2 separate regions of the Homo sapiens genome follow, and region 1 is linked to region 2. Evidence: fine-mapped expression QTL. Tissue or cell type: whole blood. Region 2 holds a variant in brackets; the other region holds the start of a gene. All regions are shown on one strand. Distances are from middle to middle.

The links. PIP is the estimated chance that this variant, and not a neighbour inherited with it, causes the effect.
Region 1: CANT1 starts here. The variant in region 2 is fine-mapped to the expression of CANT1 in whole blood (TOPMed, PIP above 0.99).

What each region holds. Positions count from the first base shown.
Region 1 is chr17:79,006,442-79,014,618 of GRCh38, reverse strand. CANT1 (calcium activated nucleotidase 1) reads left to right here and starts at 4,855. Exons shown (of 5, transcript NM_001159773.2): 1 at 4,855-4,955. RefSeq lists an enhancer at 4,466-4,515 and a silencer at 4,756-5,135.
Region 2 is chr17:78,984,596-78,992,748 of GRCh38, reverse strand. CANT1 (calcium activated nucleotidase 1) reads left to right here. Exons shown (of 5, transcript NM_001159773.2): 5 at 1-1,033. Among named protein-coding and RNA genes, the nearest start is that of LGALS3BP, 8.7 kb to the right of the region's middle. The variant A/G (reference allele first, on the strand shown) is at 3,039.

The sequences.
Region 1 (8,177 bases), 22 kb before region 2:
TCAATTCCTAGTAAAACTTTACAGACAAATTTTCCTAACTTCAATCAGTTTGACCATAATGTAAGATTTTCATAAAGCTTTTATAACCCTTTACAATTTTTTTTGTTAAAGAGTAGACCAATGCTCTAAGAAAACCCTGTTGTGCTTTTATTCCAATGTTCAATTTATGGAAAAACCAAATAATACTCCTTTAACTTTAGCCAATATGTTAACACAGAGAATTGCTTTTACAAGATTAGACTTTCACAAACCTTCCACGACTTGCTTAGACCTTCCGCTTTCTCCTATCTAAGAACAACTCTTTAAACTTCCAAACCAGGCAAAAACACCCTGCCTTCCCATGCCTTCTTATAATCTTTTACCAAACACACATTATACTTTCCTTACACACTGTGCATGTAAAAGTGTTCCTCCAGTAACCTCAGTTACATATGGTACAATGTTAACTCTTAGCAACTTTTATTTTTGGCGAAAAATTTGGTAAGTGATTTTATTTGTGTACCAGGTGTAGAGCTTGGGGCACCAGACAAAAGTGCAGATAAGGTCTGACCCCTTCCAGCATAGCTAGGGGCATGGCTAACTCCATATGTTCCCAGGCCTTACATAGACGCTAATGGCTCCAAAGAAGGTAAATTGAACAATTATCAAAAGTCAGAGAAGTAGTTTAGTAAACCTAGTATCTGACCTGCCTAATTTAGACCAAATGTCTAAATTTCAAAGACATTTTTATTTTACCAATAATCTTTAAAACTGCCTTGCTTTTCCAAAGATGACTAAAGTCATGTGAACAAAAAGGCATTAGCATTTTAATTTTTCTGGCAAAATATTTTATTTAAGTGCTTATTTTTATTTAAGCCAATTAAATAGAGCTCTTTTATATATTTTGGTTGTAAAACATGACTCACAGGGATGGTACAGACCAAGAGAAAATACCCCTCCATGGTCACAAGTCAAGCTCCCAAGGACATAAAACAAGACGAGGGGGAATCCTCATCCAGTTTTTGTTTCAGTGACCTGAAGCAAAGTTGTCAACTGACCAGTTTGCTGGGCCAGCTTGAATAGTGGGCTTACAGGGGTCCTAGGGCCACATTCTATCCTATGATACCCCTTTTATGACAGAATGACACAGAAAGCCAAATTCATAGCACAAAGTACACCAGATTCATCACAGCCTAAGACTAGCCTCACAAATCCTTTTTCCCATTCATCAAAACCTTGCAGAGGAGACAGTGATTTTTACCATTCACTCAACTGGTTTGCATAGAGAGAGAGAGACCAAAGGCCTGACTGGTAAGAAATTCTTACCCTTTTGCCAGCATGCCAGGTTTCTGGGATCCCTTTCCCTAAGCAGCCCTCGTGACCCTGCTCACAGCACCATAACTGTGGGGGCCAAGCCACATCGCAAAGCAAAAATCACCCTTTTCCATTTCATGGAACCATAGGAAAAGCCTCTCAATTTTGCAAGATGCTACACAACAAGTTGCATGGAGGAATCGAATCAACATTTTCCATTCTGGCCAGAACAAAGTGCACTTGACAAAACACAGACACTAGCCACCCCCCTCAGCACCCAATATCGACCTGGCAAGGCTCAAAACTTCCCCCATTGGCCCCTGTAGTGTTTAATCCATTCAAAGTGGGGGCGGAATGACTGCCAACCAGGAGTTTCAACAGGTGGTTTTTGGGCAAGATGGAAGAGTAGATCATCACCCAGAGTGACAGAGAAGACAGACAAGGGAAAGGCGAGAACGAGAGAGAGGAAAGGGAAGGGAGAAGAGTGTTGCCTGTGGTGGGTTGCAGAGGTGAGGAGCTCACAGAAGCCAGAGAAAGACCCATCCATCACAGTGACACTGAATCAAAAGTTCAGACAGCTGCTTGTCAAAAAGGGATCTTTTCCAGCAGTCCCATCAGCTCTCAAGTTTTCCCCTTTGGGGGAGGAAAAAAAGCTCCCCAGGTCCCATGATCCTGCACATGCCTAATCTTGTCACCCACAGCCATCAGCAAAGAGGGCATGGCAAATTAATCCAAATAGAATGGCGGTTAACATCCTGCAGTGCTGAATCCATTTTTAACCAAGAGGGCTCTTACTAAGGGTGGCCTCTAACATTCTGAAGTTGAGCCTTCAACCCAAGTTTGAACAAGCATTCTTGTTCTTTACAAAGAGGGGCCTCTAACTCCCTGTGTCTTAGGAGGGACTCTAACTCTCCTAATTTGGGCCTCTAACCCAATTCCATCCATTACCCTGGATAAAATACCCCACCATGTACCCAAAGTTGGTCAACTGGTGCTGAAGTCTATTTCCCTTGGGTCAGAGGTCTCTCCAGTGTTGTCCCTTCATGGTTTCTCAGCAAGATGTTATCAGAAAGGGGTTCCAGTCCAGGCCCCAAGAGAGGGTTCTTGGATTTTCCACAAGAAAGAATCTGGGGCAAGTCCGCAGAGTAAAGTGAAAGCAAGTTTATGAAGAAAGTAAAGCAATAAAAGAATGGCTACTCCATGGGCACAGCAGCCACAAGGGCTGCTGGTTGGCTATTTTTATGGTTATTTCTCGCTCATATGATAAACAAGGGGTGGATTATTCATGAGTTTTCTGGGAAAGGGGAGGAGATTTCCTTGGAACTGAGGGTTCTTCCCCGTTAGAACATCTAGGGTAACTTCCTGACGTTGCCATGGCATTTGTAAATCATCATGGTGCTGGTGGGAGTGTCTTTCAGCATGCTAATACATTATAATTAGGGTATAATTAGCAGCAAGGACAGCCAGAGGTCACTTTCATTGCCATCCTGGATTTGGAGGGTTTTGACCAGCTTCTTTACTGCATCCTGTTTCATCAGCAGGGTCTCTGTGACCCGTATCTTGTAACCTCCTATCTCATCCTGTGACTAAGAATGCCTAATTTCCTGGGAATGCAGCCCAGCAGGTCTCATTTACCCAGCCCTTATTCAAGATGGTGTTGCTCTGGTTCGAAGGCCTCTGAGAGAGCCACTGGATCTCTCAATTATTGCATACAGTTTTATTTCATTTTATAAAGGTTAAAATAGACAGAATTAAACAATATATTGTTTAGGGATACATACCTATGTGCTAAAATTATAAAGTAAGGCAACAGAATGATTAACACAACATTCAGTATTGTGGCTACCACCTCTTGGGGGTAGCAGGGAGTACAGAACAGGAAGAACCTGGAGAGTTTTAAAGATGCAGGAATAATGTGTTATTTCTTAAGCTGGAAGGCACATGTGGATCTTTTAGAAAATAAAAGATTCAAATATAATTGTCACATGCGTCCATGTGAAGAGATTCCACCAACGGGCCTTGTGTGAGCAACAAGACTGTTTATTTCACCTGGGTGCAAGTGGGCGGAGTCCGAGAAAGGAGTCAGCAAAGAGTAGTGGGATTATCATTAGTTCTTATAGGTTTGGGATAGGTGGTGGAGTTAGGAGCAATTTTTTGTGGGCAGGGGGTGGATCTCACAAAGTACATTCTCAAGGGTGGGAAAAATATTACAAAGTACCTTCTTAAGGGTGAGGGAATATCACGAAGTACATTATCCTAAGGGTGGGGAGGGTGTATTGTCATAAGGTCAATTGATCAGTGAGGGTGGGGCAGGAACAGATCACAATGGTGGAATGTCATCTTTTGTGGTTCTTCAGTTGCTTCAGGCCATCTGGATGTATATGTGCAGGTCACAGGGGATATGATGGCTTAGCTTGGGCTCAGAGGCCTGACAATAATGAGTATTATGTGAGACATGGTTGGGACTCAGTTTAGCATGACAAGAAACATTAATGAATTCAAGAAAGGTTTGTCTCCTCTCCAAAATCAAAAACCAAAAGTGCATAACAGTGTTTAGCACATTTCTATTTAGTTAAAGGTAATTTAAGATACGTGTTTATGACTTGTTTGGATACCATATAACATCTAGTGATCGCCTCTGGGCAGGGAATACAGAACGGCAATGGGAGGCTTATTTTTCATTGCGTACCATTTATATAATTTGAATTCCTCCTCTTGTGTATCTTTTACTGAACGGAAGGTTTTGAGAGAGCTGGGGGAAGTAGCTGGTATCAAGCAGGAAAGCTGAAGGTGCAGATGGGCAGGGGGCTGGTGCACCCTTCTGCCAAGCTCTCCTGCCAGAGGCTCCACGGCCACCAGGCCTTTCTCAGAACTTTGGGATGGAGGAGGGCGGGGCCGGGGAAGCCTTTTAACAGAGTGCCCTAAAATATCTCGGGGGCTAGGGCTACGGAGGGGAAAGGAGAAATCAGAGACCCTTGTTTGGCAGGTTTGTCAACTGCAGATTTTTTGCAGGGAAACACCCCACCGTCCCCACCCCAGGACACTACAGCCTTAGACCTCCCTGATCCTGGCTTTGGCAACTGGTCAGCAGCACTCTGGAGGCGGCTGTTTTGAAGGGCCAAGGAGAGGGGCTGCCTGAGAATGAGGATGGCAGAAAGGGGCCCACGGTTTTCCGCCTCCCAAGACTACGAGGGTCGGGAGGCCCATGTAAGGGGGCCCTCGCTCGGAGAATGAGAACTTCCCTCCCTAGTAGCCTTCACCCCCCTCAATGCCTCCCACCCCAAAAGATCTGCTGGGCCCACGTTCCAGCGCAACGCGGTGGAAGACGGCCCTCATGTGCCAGTGCGGACCCTCGCGCCCCTCCAGCCTGCAGCCAGCCGGCCGCTCCTCCAGCGCGCAGGCGCAGGACGGAAAAAAAAAACACAAAAAAACAACAAAAAAAAAACCCAAAAAAACACAAACCACAGCTCCCAGCAGCCCTCGCGCCGTCCGCGCGCAGCCGCAGAGCAGAGGCTGCCGGGAACGCGGGCCCAGAGGCGGGGCGAGCGCGCGCGGGGCGGAAGTCGGCCACCTTCCTCCGTCCCGGCCGTTAGCCCAGCCAAGCCCAGCCAAGCCCAGCCAAGCCCCGCCGATCGCGGGCACCGGAGCCAGCCCCGCAGCGGGTGAGTGACTGCGCCCGCGGCCGCCGGCGCCCTGCCCCAGCCACGGGCCCGGACCCCCGTCCCGGAGCCTGCCGCCGCCCTCCGACCCTGCCGCGTCCCGCCCCCTGACCCGTCAGGCCCCCTTCCCGTCCCACCCGTGCGGGATCTCTGCCCCCTGACTCGCAGACTGGGCTGGGACTCTGCCCTCTGACCTGTGGGAAAGTCCCCTTCTTCCGACAGGCGGTGGACACCACCCCCTCTGACTTTTGGGACACCTCATCCCTGGGACTAGCGTGGGGACCATTACCCTCTGGTTAGTGTGGGCACCCCTCCTCTCTAATTAGTGTGGGGACCATTCCCCTCTGATTAGTGTGGGCACCTCCCCCCTCTGATTATGTGACTCCTCCCCGCTCTGATTAGTGTGGGACACCCCCCTTCTAATTAGTTTGGGGACCATCCCCCTCTGATTACTGTGGGGCACCTCCCCGCTCTGATTAGTGTGGGGACCACCCCCCTCTGATTCATGTGGGGCACCTCCCCCTCTGGTTAGTGTGGGGACCATCCCCCTCTGATTAGTGTGGGACGCCTCCCCGCTCTGGCTAGTGTGGGGCACCCCTCCTGGGAATGACCCCCTCCCACCACCTTCTGACTTCAAATACCCCTCCTCTGGTCTATGCAGGGTCTCCTTGGACTGATAAGGGAATTTTCTCCCTCTGACTGGCACTTGGTCAAACCTGTAACAGGCCAACCTTCCCCACCCCATCCCAGTCCTTGCTCTCCCTGCCCTCATCCAATTTGGAGCCTTCCTCCAGGCACACAGCTCACTCTCATCTTCCTGCATGCAAATGATTCGCCCTCCCCACCATACCTGTCTCACACCCCTACTGCCATCCGGTCTGGATTCTCTCATCCTTGGAGACTGGTACCTCCTTGCCAGTCCATGTTGCCTGGTGCCTTTGCTTCTCCCTCCGAATGGTCTTTCCCTTGCCCTCTGTGTACCCTAGGCTTGGCACAGAGCACCTGTGACCACTCTTCCATCAGCAGACACATCTCTCTCCCAAACACCTTTCCCCCTTAGTGACCCCTGGAAAAGCCGTCTCTTAGTGTCCCAGCTCCATTTCTTATTTTATTCTTGAGGTTGTATGCCCTATGGCCTTTCCTACCACATTTTCAACAAAGCAGAGGTTTGGAAATGTGAGGCTCTTGGTGTCAAGTGAATCCGGCTAGCTCTCCAGTGTAAGGGCCCAAACTTGAAACAAGTGTCAGGTCGTAGAAGGCTCCTAAAAGGAAGCGGGTGCCGCAGCCCTTCAGGATCCGCTATCTCCCAGCTCTTCCTCCCTCTCCCTCTGAGGAGCTTTGCTGAGAAAGGTCCCTCCAGGCCTGGACCACAGACCCTCCCTGCAGCCCCACCGCAGGCCTCTCAGCAGGACAGTCTGGCTGGAGCCTGTGGAACGGCAGTGGGGCTCCTCCCAGGTGCTCCTCCCTGCTGGCCTCAATGAGCCCTCTATCCTAGCACACGCCCCTGCTGAAAGGCACACTGAAGGAGCCAACCCTCTCCCCTCTGGACGTGGCAAGGGTTTCCTGTCGGGGCAGCCCCAGGCATCTTCACGGCCAGGACTCAGGTGAAGCATGGATTTGTCCAGGCACTGTCATGAGGCCACCGCAGCAGTGTGGGGACCAACTTCTAGTGTCACTTTTTCATGTCCAAATTAACGTGATCACAAAAGAGAATGACATGTCACAAGGTGGTAGAGGGAACCCTCCACTCGCAGCGGGATAGGACCCCTGGACCCTGGGACACCTCGCTGGAGGGGCACATCTGAGGCTTGACGCTTCTGATTGCCAGAGGTCTCCTTTCTTCCCCTTAGGCTATAACCATATTTTCCTAGCCCATGGCAGCTTAGTAAATGTGTTGGTGTAAAAGCTCTTGGTACTCCAGAACGTTTTCACTCACCCGTCACTGTGCACCTGGTCTGCAGGACCCCCCTGAGCTGCAGAGTACGTGAGGAGACCCAGGGTGTGGTAGCAGCAGTTCTCCTGGCCCTGTGGGTGTTTTTACCCTGCCACCTGGATGTGGCTTTCGAGGTGTGTGTGCCTGTGCAGGCTCCCCCAAGTACATATGGCCCGTCCTCGGAGTCTCGGTACTTTCTGGCAACCGTATAGGTAGATAGGTAGATGTATAAATGCTGTAGTGTTTTCTCTTTCAAAAACAGAAGATCTGAGACTTGGAACTATTGTCCAGGTCCTGAAATGGGTCAGTACTATCACAAGGAGGTCATTTTTCTATTGTTTGTTGAATGGTACCAGGGATGCCAAGGACACACAGCATTCATTCTTTTCACTCAGTGCACTCTGAACTATCGAGATTTCCTGGAAAGCTCTTATGAAATGCCAATATCAAGGGAATTAGAAACTTTTATATTAATTCTTAAGAATGTTCATGTTGATTTTCCTTTTACTTTAATCAAGATGGTTAATTAGGAAAAAATCATCCTGGCAGTAGAGAAGTCTGTTTGGGGAGACGTTCTGTTTTTTGTTTTGGACCCTGCTCGTCTTTGTCATGCGTGCAGTGGTCATGTGGAGCGCCTGGTTCCCAGGCAGGACGCTGCTCCCCGCGTTCCTCTGGGATGGTTTTATGGGAAGTGAAGAAGGCGTTGAAGTCTGGCTTAAGACTTAAGACAGTGCGTGATGCCACCATGTGGGAGTGGGGCAGAGGTGAGACTGGGACCCCCCAGAATGGCTCTGAGGGTGTTGCCGGGTTGAGTGAAAGTCCTGGCGATTCGGCCTTTGTGTCCCGGGAGCCGAGCCTGGAGGAAAGCGTGAGGAGAGAAGGTGGCAGTAAGCAGGTGGGCTCGTGCAGGTGCCACCGCGGTGTGGAAGGCAGCCCTGATCCAGGTCCATGGGGCGATGATCCCATCCCGTTATTTTCACACACTCTGGAAAAGGACACCTTCCCAGATGTGTGGTGCCATTTGGAATGTGCCTTTCAACTGAGAAGGTCGCCTTTTGGCTAAAATTCCTCCAGGTGTAACATCGATGATACAAATTAAGCAGACACAGCCTCTTTACAAGGCAGTAACTGCAAACCGTAGAGGGTTCTGAAGCTGTGCGCCCACACCATAGACAGTGACTGGTCCTGGCCCTTGGAAAAACCTGGAGGCTCTTTCCCCTCTTCCTCCTGTGATTGGTGGAGGAACAGCTCCCCGAGATGTCCACGTCCTACCTTCTGAGCCTGTGAATATG
Region 2 (8,153 bases):
TGTAAGGAAGCGGTGGCGGCTGGTGAAGCAAGTCTCACATGTCGGCGTTCTTGGCCAATGGATACAAAGATAAAGAAAATGTTGCCTTTTTCTAGGAACTGTCAGAAATCCTCATGCCTTTCAAGACTTCTGTGAATGACTTGAATTTTTTATTCCCTGCCTAGGGTCTGTGAACGAGGCCTGTCTCTTCCCTGGGGTTTCTTTCCATGGCCTTTATTTCTCCTCTTCCAGTGGGAGTTTTGCAGGCTCTTCTCTGTGGAAACTTCACGAGCGTTGGCTGGGCCTCGGCTTCGCTGGAGTGTACTCCAGGGTGAAGGCAGAGTGGGATTTGAGACCCAGGTTAGGCACGACCCAGGCTGAGAAGGGACGTTTCCATCATTCACAGTGCCCTCCCCACAGCACTACCTCACCCCGACCCCCACCCTCACTCCTACCCCACCCCGCGATCGTCAGGGGTGCCACGGTGGGCCGGAGGGTGCCGGCTCTGGCTGTCCCTGTGCCGGTCCCTCACAAACCTCTCCCCCTTTGAAACTCAAGCACAGCTGCGAGGAGGGCAGCGAGGAGGGACCCCTCTCTCATGGTTGTCTCTTTCCCCCGCTATGTCATAGGTAGTGGAGGAAGCGAAGGAAGTGAACGCTGAATGTGACGCATTTCTGAAGAGCTCAGCTGTCACCGGGCATAGCCTGGAAGCCCCAAGTCTGTTCTGACTTTGCCTGGCTGTCTCCTTGACCCGCCTCCTAGATCATTGTCCTTGATGTCCAGGCTGGGTCATTTAAAATAGAGATGCAATCAGGAAGGTTGGGGGACTTGGGACTGTGGCTGAATTGAGACCTTGCTGATGTATTCATGTCAGCACCTGAGTCACAGCCCAGGTGCCCGGAAGCAGCCTCTTCGCATAGGCAGTGATTTGCGATTACTTTAAAGCTCACCTTTTTTCTTCCCCTCTCTGTTCGCTGCTGTCAGCATAATGATTGTGTTCCTTCCCTATGGGATCCATCTGTTTTGTAAACAATAAAGCGTCTGAGGGAGTGTAGTTTTCTGTCTCCCGGTCTGTGCTGACTGTTTGCAGAGGCCTGGCCACGAGAGCGCCTGCGCAGGATGCTGGGCATGCGCACGGGAGTCGCCCGCCAGGGCATCCCATCTGGAAACTGCGTCCTCCAGTCCGCCTTGTCCCACTATCTCAAGGCGCTCCAAGAGCACGAGCGCTGTGGTCAGAAAGGTGGGGTCTGAAGCCACTGCAAGCCCGATCCTGGCTCTGTCCCCATCCAGCTGCATGTCCTTAGGCAAATGACCTAACTTTCCTGTGCTTCAGTGTCCTCGTCTGCAAAAGGATGCTCATCGCAGAGCTCATCCCGGGGCTGCAGTGAACGGTAAGTGACTGGGTACGCGCAAGGGGCTTAGAACATCACCTGACGTGTGCTGGGCACCCACGTGCCCGTTTTGTTGCTGCTCATCCCTGGGGAGCCATCTGGATGACTTGGTAAGGAGGCGCTCAGGTGAGAGGTCAGGGCTGAGCTGGTGTCTTTAGTGTGTCAGTGAGTCCACAGGAACAGACGAGGTCGCTCCAAGTGACGCATGGAAGAATCCCCATCACTGAAACCACAGGCGCCAGGGAGGCAGGCACTGGCCAAGAAAGACCTCAACTAGAGACAGGACAGGGGCGGCCAGAGAGGGACAGAAAACCGGGAGAGCGGAATCAGAAAGGGCAATTGCACCCACATCGACCCCTTACCCTTCAGACCCACTCTCCTTCCCCGCCTCCTCCGGGTCCCAGACCCAGTGAACCTCCTCAGTGCCCTCTGGGATGGCCCCTGGGGAGTCCCTGACTCTCTCTGGCACTCGCCTCTCAAGGCAGCCCCCTGGTGCCACTCCCAGTGTCTGGGCTGAGTCCCCTCCCCTGGTCTCTTCTGGCCTGGGAGTGTGACATGGGAGTGACAGCTCCACTGTTAGCAGCTCCAGATGCTACAGCGGCCCCTCGTGCCGCCCGCACGCCCTGCTGTCTCATCCGTGGTAAATGGTCCCTTCACTGAAGCCTCCTTAGATGATCTTCATTCGGGTGTCGTCTTTTCCTGCTGGGAGCCTGACCAAGACAGCGCTGCAGGGAGGCGGCCTCTGCAGAAGGACCAGCGCGGCAGCGGGGTCCCCAGAGAGACTCCATGACTGAGCAGCAAGGAGAACTGGGCGTTCTCGGCGAGGATCCACAGAACAACAGTTCCAGAAAAAGCCAGGGCGCATCGGGCCGCGGCGGGTTGGGATAAGGAACCGCATGTAAGCTCTTGACCATCTGTTTAAGAAGCTGTGACATGCGGGACTCGTGGGGCAGTGACTGCCGGCTCCACACTCATGGGTCCGGCACACAGCTCATCTGCAAATGGAAGACTCTCCAGTCACCTCAACTGGACAAAAAAACGAGATTCAGTTTCTTTCATTCCACGTGTTAATCCTGTATTCCAGTATACTTTTTTTCTTTTCTTTTTTTTATTTTGGGGGGATGGAGTCTTGCTCTGTCTCCCAGGCTGAAGTGCAGGGACACGATCTTGGCTCACTGTAACCTCCATCTCCCAGGTTCAAGCAATTCTTCTGCCTCAGCCTCCCAAGTAGCTGGGATTACAGGCGTGCGCCACCACGCCCGGCTAATTTTTGTGTTTTTAGTAGAGATGGGGTTTCTCCATATTGGCCAGGCTGGTCTCAAACTCCTGATCTCAAGTGATCCATCCGCCTTGACCTCCCAAAGCGTTGGGATTACAGGCGTGAGCCACTGCACCCAGCCATGGTACACTATTTTATTTTATTTTATTATTTTATTTTATTTTATTTATTTTATTTTATTTTATTTATTTTATTTTATTTATTTTATTTTATTTTATTTTAAGACGGAGTCTCGCTCTTTCGCCCAGGCCAGACTGCAGTGGCACTATCTCGGCTCACTGCAAGCTCCGCCTCCCGGGTTCACGCCATTCTCCTGCCTCAGCCTCACGAGTAGCTGGGACTACAGGCTCCCGCCACCGTGCCCGGCAAATTTTTTGTATTTTTAGTAG[A/G]GACGGGGTTTCACCATGTTAGCCAGTTTGGTCTCGATCTCCTGACCTTGTGATCTGCCCGCCTCGGCCTCCCAAAGTGCTGGGATTACAGGTGTGAGCCACCGCGCCCGGCCCACGGTACACTTTAAATTGATAAATCTCAAGGTAAGTTATCCCTTCATGCTGTTAAAAGAGTTAAAGCAAAAATAAAATACCGTCACACTGTGAAAACCCCTGGCCCAGATGGCTTCACTTTTGAATTGTACCAAACATGTAAGGGAGAAATAATACGAAAGCAACACAAAATCTTCCATGATTCTGGGAGTTGGGAAACTTTTCCAACTCATTTTATGAGGGCACCACTATACTGATACCAAAACCAGAAAAATACATTACAAAAAAAAAAAATACAGACCAGTATCCCTCATGAACATAGATGTAAAAATCCTGGCCAGGAGCAGTGGCTCACGCCTGTAATCCCAGCACTTTGGGAGGCCGAGGCGGGTAGATCACGAGGTCAGGAGATTGAGAGCATCCTGGCTAACACAGTGAAACCCCATCTCTACTAAAAAATACAAAAAAGTTAGCCGGGCACAGTGGCGGGCACCTGTAGTCCCAGCTACTCGGGAGGCTGAGGCAGGAGAATGGCATGAACCCAGGAGGCAGAGCTTACAGTGAGTCGAGATCGCGCCACTGCACTCCAGCCTGGGTGACAGAGCGAGACTCCGTCTCAAAAAAAAAAAATAAATAAAAATAAAAAATAAAAAAAGAATCCTTAGCACAGATTAGCAAGCCAAATTCAGCAATAATCAAAAATTAGAATGTTACCGGAAAGGGGTCTGATTCAGGTCACCAAGAGAGGGTTCTTGGAGCTCACACAAGAAATAATTCTGGGCACGTCCATAGAGTAAAGTGACAGCAAGTTTATTAAGAAAGTAGGCCAGGTGCGGTGGCTCACGCCTGTAATCCCAACACTTTGGGAGGCTGAGGCAGGCAAATCACGAGATCAGGAGTTGGAGACCAGCCTGACCACATGGTGAAACCCCATCTCTACTAAAAATATAAAAATCAGCTGGGCGTGGCGGTGCATGTCTGTAATCCCAGCTACTCAGGAGGCTGAGGCAGGAGAATCGCTTGAACCTGGGAGATGGAGGTTACAGTGAGCCGAGATCGCGCCACTGCACTCCAGCCTGTGCGATGGAGTGAGACTCCATCTCAAAAAAAAAAGTAAAGGAATAAAGAATAGCAACTCTAAAGGCAGAGTAGCTCCAGGGCTGCTGACTGTCCCTTTTTATGGTTATTTCTTGAGGATATGCTAAACAAGGGGTGGATTCTTCATGCCTCCCGTTTTTAGACCATAGAGGGTAACTTCCTCATGTTGCCATGGCATTTATCATGGTGCTTGCAGGAGCATAGCAGTGAGGACAGCCAGAGGTCACTCTCATCGCCGCTTGATTTTGGTGGGTTTTAGCCGGCTTTACTGCAGCCTGTTTTGTTGTTGTTGTTGTTTTTGAGATGGAGTCTCATTCTGTTGCCCAGGCTGGAGTGCAGTGGCACAATCTCAGCGCACTGCATCCTCCGACTCCCAGGTTCAAGCGATTCTCCTGCCTCAGCCTCCCGAGTAGCTGGGATTACAGTCGTGCGCCACAACACCCTGCTAATTTGTATATTTTTAGTAGAGATGGGGTTTCACCATGTTGGCCAGGCTGGTCTCAAACTCCTGACTTCGCGATTCGCCTGCCTCGGCCTCCCAAAGTGCTGGGATTACAGGTGTGAGCCACTGCGCCCGGCCAGCCTGTTTTATCAGCAAGGTATGACCTGTATCTTGTGCCAACCTTCTGTCTCCAGTGACTAAGAATGCCTTAACCTCCTGGGAATGCAGCCCAGCAGGTCTCAGCCGTAATTTACCCAGACCTGGTTCAAGATGGAGTGGCTCTGGTTCAAACGTCTCTGACAAGAATACTTCACGATAGGTGTGGTTTATTCTAGGAATACAGGGTTAGTTCAGTATTCTGAAATCAATCAATGAAATTCATATGAAGACTAAAAAGGGGCAGGGTGTGGTGGCTCATGCCTGTAATCCCAGCACTTTGGGAGGCTGAGGTGGGCATTTGAGGTCAGGAGTTCGAGACCAGCCTGGCCAACATGGTGAAACCCCGTCTCTACTAAAAACACGAAAAATTAGCTGGGGGTGGTGGGGCGCACCTATAGTCCCAGCTACTTGGGAGGCTGAGGCAGGAGAATCGCTTGAACCTGAGAGGCGGAGGTTGCAGTGAACCGACATCATCCCATTGCTCTCCAGCCTGGGCGACAGAGCGAGACTCCATCTCAAAAAAAAAAAAAAAAAAAAAAAAGACTAAAAAGGGGGAAAAGCATGATAATCTCAAAAGATAGAGAAAAAGCATTTGACAGAATCTAACAGCCATTCACCCAATCCAATTCTAAACAAAAAGCCAAAAAACCCGTTAGGGAACATCCTTAACCCGATGAAGGGCTCCGGTGAGAAGTCCACAGCTAAGCTCCTACTTCACGGTCAGACACTGAATGCCTTCCCCCTGAGGAACAACGCAAGAGTGTCTGCTTTCACCACTTTCTTCCCCACCATTTTTTCCTTTGAAATAAAATTTTGAACCACACAGAAGTTGCAAAAATACAGTAGGTCCTATGAAAGGAAAATAAAAACCGCAATGCACCCTTCCAATAGGAAAAAACAGGAAGCTGAGAGCTGAGTCATGCAAGCAGCTGCCTTTCCTCTTGTTCCTAAGCAGAGAGCGACAGAGGAAAGGCTAAAGACCTCGGCAGGTAGCTACTGTGCTCACCTTATCTTATGTGAAGTGCCAATTTACTGAGCACCAGATGAATACACGATTGACTGTTCCCCTGCCTGCTTCTCTTCTCTTGCAACCCGTGGCGGCAGCACTAGGACCGGACCCTCCCACTTCCCCCTCCAGCCTGCTTTTCCCCTTTAAATATGGAAGCCCTCAAAGTCACCTTTGGAGAAAGGCACAGACCACAGACTGTTTCAGCGATTCCGTGTTTTGTCACGTTTTGTTTTGCCTCCCTGGCCTTATCCTTGACCTTGGCAAAATTAACTGGTTGAGAACAGTCTCAGATACTTTTTGGTTCATATCCCCCTTCTGTGGGGGATACATTCCAAGACCCGCAGTGGATGCCTGAAACCATAGATAATGTGGAATTTACTGTTCTACATTCATACCTGCGATAAAGCTTAATTCATAAATTAGGCACAGTAAGAGATTAACAGTAACATAGTAAATAGAACAATTAGAACAATAGTCTAAAATAAGAGTTATGTGCATGTGGTCTCTCTCTAAATATCTTAGTGTACTGTACTCGCCCTTGTGATGAAGAAGGGAAAGAGCAGGATGACACAATATTTCATCCCACTAGGAACAGTATGCAATTTAAAACTTATGAATTATTTCTGGAATCTTCCATTTAATATTTTCAGACCTCAGTTGACCGTGGGTAACTGAAACTGCAGTAAGTGAAACTGCAGATAAGCGGGGCCAGCAGTCGTGTTTCTGTGCAGCATTCATGTGGCTCCCTCCAGTGTACTGATTACCTAAGCACAGTACATTTACCAAACCCAGGAAACTGACATTGCTCTCATCACTTTTATTCCTCATCCTATTGGTGCAAAAGAAAAAAAAAGGAAGTTATTCAGATTTGAAAAGAAGGAATAGAACTATCTTTATTCGCCAGTGACAAGCTTTGACTAGCTAGACAAGCCTAAGAAATCTTCAAAAAATAACTACGAGGCTAGGCATGGTGGCTCACGCCTTTAGTAATCCCAGCACTTTGGGAGGCTCAGGCAAGAGAATCACTTAAGCCCAGGAGTTCAAGACCAGCCTGAGCAACATAGCAAGACCCTGTCTCTACAAAAAAATGTAAAGATTAGCTGGATGTGGTCACGCCTGCCTGTGGTCCCAGCTACATGGGAGGCTGAAGTGGGAGGATCACTTGAGCCCAGGAGATTGGGGCTGCAGTTAGCAGTATTTGTACGACTATACTCCAGCCTGGGTAACAGAGCGAGACTCTGTCTCAAAAAAACCACGAAACTACACATACTAAATTTAATATATTAATATTTAATATATATTAATATGTTAAATTTAATACATTAATATTTAACATATTAATATATTAATTCCACATACAAAATTTAACTTTATTATAACTGCAGTGAACAACTAGAAATTGTAAAATTTTTAAACATTGTCAATTACAGTAGCACCAAAAATCGGGAAATAGTTACGTATAAGTCTAACAAAAGATGTGTGACATCTACATCCTGAAACTACAAAACACTGATGAAAGAAATCAGAGACTCAAAAGAACAAAACAGTATACGTCTTCATGGGTCTACAGACTTGATTTTGAAAAAGAAAAGCAAAGTTGAAGGACTTATACTATCTGGCTTCAAGACTTAATATAATGCTGTAAGTAATCAAAACAGTGTAGTATTGCCATAAGAAAAACAGACACCGACAAGTGAGACAGAATAGGGTCCAGAAATAGACCCTTATGGATGTGGCCCATTGACTTTTGACAAAAGAGCCAGGGTAATTCACCTGAAATACAAAAGACTGTCTTCCCACCATGGTGCTGGGACAACCCTGTGAACCCTGAAAATTTGAGACAGGCCTCAGTTAATTTACTTTATTTTATTTATTTATTTATTTATTTGGGACAGAATCTCTCTCCTGACAGGCTGTAGTGCAGTGGTGTGATCTTGGCTCACTGCAACCTCTACCTCCCAGGTTTAAGTGATTTTCCTGCCTCAGCCTTCCGAGTAGCTGGGATTACAGGTGTGCACCACCACACCCAGCTCATTTTTTATATTTTCGGTATTGATGGGGTTTCACCATGTTGGCCAGGCGGGTCTTGAACTCCTGACCTCAAGTGATCTGCCCTCCTCACCCTCCCAAAGTGCTGGGATTACAGGCGTGAGCCACCGCGCCCAGCCGGGCTCAGTTAATTTAGAGTTTATTTTGCCAAGGTTGAGGACGTGGGCGCCCCTGACACAGCCTCAGGAGGGCCTGGCAGTGTGTGCCCAAGGTGGTCAGGGCACAGCTTGGTTTTATACATTTTAGGGAGATATAAGACATCAAT